2 linked regions of the Homo sapiens genome follow. The protein of the gene in region 2 interacts with the protein of the main gene of each other region in a pairwise test. Each region holds a gene or a part of one and is shown on either strand. Other genes may lie near its edges. The genes, in order: GIGYF2 and GRB14.

Evidence for each region.
Region 1: the proteins of GRB14 (region 2) and GIGYF2 interact in a two-hybrid assay, tested with the Homo sapiens proteins (one study listed by BioGRID).

What each region holds. Positions count from the first base shown.
Region 1 is NC_000002.12:232,700,284-232,704,207, reverse strand, and holds part of GIGYF2 (GRB10-interacting GYF protein 2), read right to left. Parts: intron 3,624-3,924; exon of another isoform or gene 3,554-3,623; intron 785-3,553; 5' UTR 719-784; intron 1-718. UniProt on the Homo sapiens protein: Key component of the 4EHP-GYF2 complex, a multiprotein complex that acts as a repressor of translation initiation. In the 4EHP-GYF2 complex, acts as a factor that bridges EIF4E2 to ZFP36/TTP, linking translation repression with mRNA decay.
Region 2 is NC_000002.12:164,495,562-164,499,485, forward strand, and holds part of GRB14 (growth factor receptor-bound protein 14), read right to left. Parts: intron 1,930-3,924; coding exon 1,813-1,929; intron 1,723-1,812; coding exon 1,650-1,722; intron 1,535-1,649; coding exon 1,447-1,534; intron 1-1,446. UniProt on the Homo sapiens protein: Adapter protein which modulates coupling of cell surface receptor kinases with specific signaling pathways. Binds to, and suppresses signals from, the activated insulin receptor (INSR). Potent inhibitor of insulin-stimulated MAPK3 phosphorylation.

The sequences.
Region 1 (3,924 bases), about 68 Mb from region 2:
GTCACCATTCTACCTTCTCTGAGACCTGCCCCCACCATTAGGAGTGGGACCTTTCAGCTAACTGTGCTTGCACTTCTAGACTCCAACCCTATGTCCATAACTAATGTGATCAATGACAAAGAACCGAACCAAGTTCAACCAGCCAAATTTCCCCCTCCCAAGAATATGAAATGTGAACACTGTGCTAGCATCAATTGGCTACTGGCACTAGAGCCTAAGTTCATATGTGGCTCCAAGAATTAAGTGGCCATTTGCTACCATGAGTTTGTGTTTGTTAAAGCAGAAAAGGCCAGACTGCACAAATACAATTAAAGCAGGACAAAAAGAGACAAGAGAGGACACTGGCCAGCTGGTAAAAAAGTGCTATCTACAAGTACTATGGCTCCTGAAAGCTTCCCAGTTTCTGGTTCATGTCCCTCATGAAGTCAACTGCTCTTTGGTTCTTTACAGTACTCCTGCCTCCAAAGCATTCCTCCTTGTTTCTTGCCAACAAAAAATTATTATGACAGTTTAAGACACAAATTCACACCAGGGTCAATGCAGAAAGGGTATGTTACTCTTACTGTTCATAAAGGATCTGACAGGCACCAGGGAAGAAGTTTCTTCTCACTACCCAAAACCTCAGGAGAAATAATAGGGCAAAAATAACTAAAACCTAAAAGCAGAAATTACCTATTTGCAAAAGCCCTCAGGCTTTGTGCTTCCCTTCCACACTTACCTGTTCAAAAATTCTGCTGGTTCACAGCAGGAGATTTGAGCAGACTTTGTTCAGATCCTTTTAACGCTGTAAATAATAAAAATATTAATATAAATCACCCAGCAACCTCTTAGGAAACTTTAAAAGTACAATCTTTCATCATAAATATACTTTGCAGAAAATGGCTTCCAAACCTGGTTAAAAGAGTAGATCACCTGGTGTATTTATAAACTAGGTTCCCTAACATCTAGAAAGTCTCAGTAGTTCTACAGTGGGACTGAAAACTATATTTTTTAACAAAAGTCCTAAGTGATTCTTATGAAGCTGTCAAATGAAGACCACCATGGGGTTTCAGGGAAGTCATTATTTGGGGTTTTCATTCAAAACCCCATTATAGGGACTTGGTATTAACTTTTAAAACCTACTGCCAGGCACAGTGGGTCATGCCTGTAATCCTAACACTTTGGAAGGCCAAGGAAGGTGATCGATTGAGCCCACGAATTCAAGACCAGCCTGGGCAACATGGCAAAACCCCACCTCTACAAAAATTAGCCAGGCATGGTGGCACATGCCTGTAGTCCCAGCTACTCGGGAAGCTGAGGTAGGAGGATCACCTGAGCCCAGGGAGGTCAAAGCTGCAGTGAGCTGCAACTGTACCACTGCACTCCAGCCTGGGTGACAGAGTGAGACCTTATCTCAAAAAATATATATCTAACAGAAAAACAAAAGCCGCATCACAGCAATATGCATCCTATGCAAATAATCACTGAGCCCTCAGAAATATGATCATTGCCAAAATGTCCAGGGAGCAAAGCTCCAAGTGTGCAAAATCACAACCTGCCTTTAATGCTCTGTTGGGGCAATATCTTAAAAATCCATAAGTTGGTGATATTCCAAGTGACAAGAGTGAATTGAAGTATAGTATCTTCAAATAGTTTCTTGGCTAAAATCAAATGATGCTTTACTGCTACTAACAAGTCAAAGAACAATAATTAACAATTAAAGTTGACAATTTCATTAACTACAGGAAAGCAACTAGATAGAGACAGATAGAGTTTTTTTTCTTTTTTTGGAGACAGAGTCTCGTTCTGTTGCCCAGGCTGGAGTGCAGTGGCACGATCTGGGCTCAAGGCAACCTCCGCCTCCCAGGTTCAAGCAAGTCTCCTGCCTCAGCCTCCCGAGAAGCTAGGATTACAAGTGTGCACCACCATGCCCAGCTAATTTTTGTATTTTTAGTAGACACAGGGTTTTGCCATGTTGGCCAGGCTGGTCTCAAATTCCTGACTTCAAGTGATCCACCCACCTCAGCCTCCCAGAGTGCTGGGATTACAGGCATGAGCCACTGCACCCGGCCAGTTATTTTCAAAATGGGATCTTGCTTTGTTCCCTCAGCTGGAGTGTAGTGGTACAATCAGAGCTCACTGTAGCCTTGACCTCCTGGGCTCAGCCTCCTGAGTAGCTGTGACTACAGGCGTGCACCACCATACTCAGCTAATTTTTTAAAAATCTTTTTTAGAGATGGGGGTCTCTCTCTGTTGCCCCGGCTGGTCTCATGGCTCAAGTGATCCTCCTACCTCAGCCTCCCAAAGTGCCGGGATTATAGGTGTAAACTACTGCACCCAGCCAAAGAAGAGTTTATTATCCATTTCTTCTTCCCTTTCCTCCTGCCCTTAAAAAATTACACAGTTCAGTGGGTAAAGTTGGATGACCTTTGGACATTATAACATGGCTACTTTTTTTGCAAAATTAAATCAGAAGTGGATGTGACTTTCTCAAATTGCATTCTTGGTGGGGCACAGTGGCTCATGCCTATAATCTCAACACTTTGGGAAGCTGAAGCGGGAGTATCACTTGAGACCAGAGGTTTAAGACCAGCCTAGGCAACATAGTGAGACCCCATCTCTACAAAAAATATTGGCCAGATGTGGTGGCATGGACCTATAATCCCAGTTACTTAGGAGGCTGAGGTGGGAGGATGGCTTGAGCCTGGGAGATTGAGGTTACAGTCAGTGGTGATTGCACCGCTGCCCTCCAGCCTAGGTGACAGAGCAAGACCCTGTCTTTTTTGGAGAAAGTCTTGCTCTATCACCTAGGCTGGAGCGCAGCGGTGCAATCACGGCTCACTGCAACCCCAAACCCCCAGGAGACAGGGTCTTGCTCTATCACAGGCTGTAGTGAGCCAAGATCAGGCCGCTGCACTGTAGCCTGAGCAACACAGTGAGATTCCATCTCAAATAATAATAATAATTAAGCTTAATGAAACCCCATAGTTAACAAGAAAATATAAAATTGTGTTCCTTATTTACTTAAAGTAGGGAAGTATGTAATACTTTGAAATACCTTTATAAAATGAAGTTTGGTCAATTAAGAGAACATTCTTTGTTTTTCAAACCTCTTTCTGCTTTCAACCTCACACAAAACTATAGGCAATTCAATAAAGGTATCACTTTACATTCCTACATAATTAATTTAGTATATTTCTCATTCATCTGAGAGCATGAATAAAATGTAAAAACAATATTTGGTCAAGAAACACTGCAATGCTAACTATAAGCAAGTTTATACATGAAATAAAAATCTCTAGTTTTAAAGAGATGTAATTTTTCAAAGTATTAAAAATGAATGGAAACTCTAGGACTTTTTTATCTTATTTTAAACTTCTATTTCTTTTTCATTTTATATATTTTTCCTTTTATTCTTAAATACTCTCCCATGCAAAAACCATAGGACTTTATCACCACAAAACCCTAGTGGGAATCAAGCAGTGAAAAAAAGCTTGAGTTCAGACTGTTACAACAATGACCAAACAATATGCCATGGTAATTTAAACTGAAGGAAAATGGACATTTAACTTGCCTCTAAGAGACCTGGGTTAACACCAACATAGGCTGTAGATTCAACCTAATGAGACTGGTCCCACTATAATCTATAAGAAATAGAATAAAACAGAAAGTATGGGAAATTTAATCAGCAGGAGCTAATGGAGAACTGCAAACAAAGTCAAAATTTGAAAATGGCACAAGTCAAAGATCCTACAGAAGGGCAATCATAAAAGCGACAGTAGTAATCTTTTTACCCAAAAAGGTTCTCCCAGATAGCAATCACTATCAACAGTGTCATCTTCCAATGTGAAGGTCAACAAAAAGAGAAGAGACAATATGGAGTATTAAAATGCAGAGTCATGAAAACAAATGAGCTGATATGACATCAAAGACATAATTTGGAAA
Region 2 (3,924 bases):
AGTTTTGTATTAACTGCTGGTAAATACACCGTGTAAATGATCCCCACTGGTGAATCCAATATGAATCTCACTGTGCCTGGGCAAAGAGGCAGCCAAATTTAAAGCATCACAGATGTCTGACGAGTTTATCCATTTCATTTGTGCTGTGTGAGATTCCGACATTACATCACTGGGAAATGGGACAAAAGGGCGTTTCACTGGTAAATCAAGCTGTAATTCTTTTCCCATTCCCAAGTAGATCACCACTACCACCTAGTGGATCACTTGGCACCATCACATCTCTCCAAAAGAATACCAAAAATACTAAAAATAAGATAGTATCTTTTTTTATACGATCATTTCATTCACTTTATAAATACTGGGCTCAGAAATAAAGAAAATTACAATCTTTCAAAACATTTTAATAATTCTTTGTGACTCATTTATTTTCTTGGTTTCATCAGATTGTAATTCTACTGATTGTTCAAATTTATTTCCAAAAAGACTGCATTCCATGCAAAGAAACGTATTAAAATATCTTATTTACAGTCTGGGGAAATGCTGACTTCCTATTAATAATCTTCCATGTGAAGAAGCATTGTTATCCAAATTTCAGTATTAAATCACCTTGAAATCTTGTCATGATAATGACATGATTAGCCAACTTTTGAAGATAAAAGATCCCATCACCACTTGTTTAAATTGATAATGATTTCATTACTCATCTAAACCACAATACAACCTCCCTCATTTGTACTGCATTTGGAAAGGGAATTCAGCCAGTATTATAGAAAGTATCTGAAACACTGAGTAATTTGAGAAAAATAAAATTCTTCACATTATAAATCTTTCATAATACATTTTATATTTCTCTTTTGTATTCCATGGTACCCCACTAAAAGACAACATGAGAAACAGTTGAAAGGTACTCTTTTCACGGATCTATATTACTTTAAGATGTTAAAATTTAGAGAAAGGACAATAGGGATGTAAACACACAAAAAAATAAGTGTTCAAAACACTTAAGAAACAGCTTTTTACTTAATACATGTTGCATCATACCTAAAAAAATACATTTGACATAATGTCATAATATAAACCATACTTCGAAATCATATGTTCAAATCAAAATATTGACACTTAAAAAGAAGTTCATTTTCCCCCATCAATTGATATCTGAGATGCTAGAATCAGGACATAATGGGTAATATTAGTGATCACTGGTTAAGAACAAGATACTCTATTCCGTTATTTGTCCATTTATATACAAATACCAGACACACACTATGTACCAGGTATAATATAGATACTGTTAGAATACAGTGATGACCTCATTTATAGAACAATGTCACTTCTGTTTTATGATAAGCCCAAATCAAGAACTCTTTGTGGCTATGGAATAAATAATTTCTGCTTATAGGAGAAATCCAATTCACAAGTACTCAAAATTAAAAATACCAAACTTACCCATCCACAAGTCCTTGCTGAATAATCAATCGCTGAGCCTCATCTCTAGAAATTTTGTGGTGAAACCATGGCTGGGACCGGTGGATAGCTAAAGAAATAGGATGGATGAATGCAAAGCTTTGTTTGAGATGACTGCAATTTCATTACATGTCCTTTCCATGTCTATCCGTCTACTCAGTGGCAATGACTATGAACAGACATACCCATGTTTGTGGCAGAGCTCTGTGAAGAGGCAGTGGGGCTACCGTGAGTGCCCAGGCGTAAACATCCTTTTTTCTGAGCAAGGAAGGAGAAAACAAATCTCAAGTTTTTAGGTGAAACAAACTGAAATCATAAATATTTTGAAGCATGTGAAGCTACTTGTACCCTCCAAGCGAGTCCTTCTTCAACCGCAACTGAAAGGGCTTCAGTGGGATTTTCTATAACTCTGCTTTTCTGGCCTGAGAAGTCCATTGCTACCAGGGAATTCTCTGATATACTTCTCTGGAAAAAAGAAACACATTTGAGTTATGAAAATTTCTTTGAAAGTTATCTTTCAAATAAATTGAAAGTGTTTTTCAATTTCAGTGTTTTTCTCTCAGTGTTTTTCTGGCAGTACATTTCCATTCTAGAAGGTGGTGCCTGAAGGGGCTAGCAGAATATTTAAAGTGAAAATACATATTCAAGATATAAAGGTGCTAAAAATATTTTTGTTAAAAAAGCTAAATAGTAATTTGTTAAGGTAATTGAAGAGTTGAATAAACAGATTAAAAGCTTTTAAAGTATGTCTTTCTTCTAAAACAAACTTATCTTTTCACGTTCTCTAGTAAAATGGGAAAACTTCCATTTAGAAAGGAATAGCTCTTCCTCTGGTTAAAAAGATACATTGTTTCTGAATTGATGTCTCCATTAAGCTTTGAGATCCGTCAGTCATCAATTAAATGTCAAATCCATCTACTTATGAAGCAACTAGTTTTTAAGATTCAAGATACCCAAAAGTTATAACTTAGATTGACATATATCTCTTGAGAAATAATACTCATTATTTTTAATGAGTTTTATAATGGAGCAAACTAGAATATGTATTTTAAAAGTTTATCACATCAACTTTCATCTTACTTAGAAAATAAAATTTAGTGAAAGAATAATCCTGATAATTCCATAACCTTAAAATTTCCATGATTTAACATATGAATACATTTTCATCTTGTGAGAATACACTTGGCCACATGAGGGCTGCAAAAATAAGCCTGAATAAGAACTGATAGAAGGCAACTTTAAAGAAACTTAGTTTAAACAAATGATAAAGTCATTGTTTTTGCTAACTACTTCTTGTATTTATATTCTTTGAGTTGAAAGTAAAATATGCAAAACCCGATCTTCTTTTTCTTTTTTGTTTGTTTGGGGCTCTACTTTACAACCATCTTTTAACAAATATGCCACCCCACAACAAGTCATGAATCCTAAGAAAGACCATTGTCAAAATCTCTAGTCAAGAATCCCACTCAGTTCATAAGTTCATACAACATCAAGAAGGAATTAAAATTCTCCAAAAGAAAAATTTTAAAACACCCATGGAAAATAACAGTTATTTTCTACTAATTAATAGAAGAGCAAAACCCAAAGTGGTGTTATAATAGTAAACTACTAGCCAGCCTGCATCTGGGGCCCCCTGGCTTAAAAGCATTTTATCTCTCTTTATGTAGATTCAGCTATACCTGGCTTGGTTGCATAGACTATAGTCAAATGTAGGCTTCAAACAAAACCTTATCCACAGATAACTATAGGACTCCTTTATCACTGCTTCAACATATCCCACTTTATTAGCATTTGTAATTTTCTCTTCAAACTATGCTGTAGTGGCCTACAATCTTATTATGGTTCATCTATATTTCTAAAGATCTGGCATGCAATCTTTCATTTGTTACAGGAGCCTTTATAACTGACAGCTGCTCTTTCCACACAGATGCTGTCTCTGTAATCTCTATTTGCTGTCACACCTTAGTTTGCCCTTCTCACCCCGTGATCTTCTGTGCAGGTCTGTAGACCAGTCAGATATACTTGTGCTTTGCTGACATTAATGAAAAGCATCCACCTGCCCAAACCACAGAGTAAGCTTCCTCAATCATAATAGCTTTATCCTTATAATATCTCTCCGTTTACATGCCAAGGTAGGTTCTGTAATCTCAACTCCCTGGCAACATAAAAATACCATTATATTAAGAAAAAAATAATCAGCTGTCCTATTTTTCTCCCTCTAGTATAGCAGGCCAGGAAATAAAACAAGATCCTGTGTTCCCTATTTACTTGACATACATAAGAAGACGACACTACAAATAAGGAACGTTTTCATTTGCTACATTAACTAGATTAACGGAAAACACAGGACTATAGCAAATGTCTTCTACTGAATGGCAGGTGGTAGATAGAAAATTAATAGTTTACCATTGGTGGACAAAAAAATGGAAGTAAAGCAGAGTCTGACAAACTCAAAAGGTC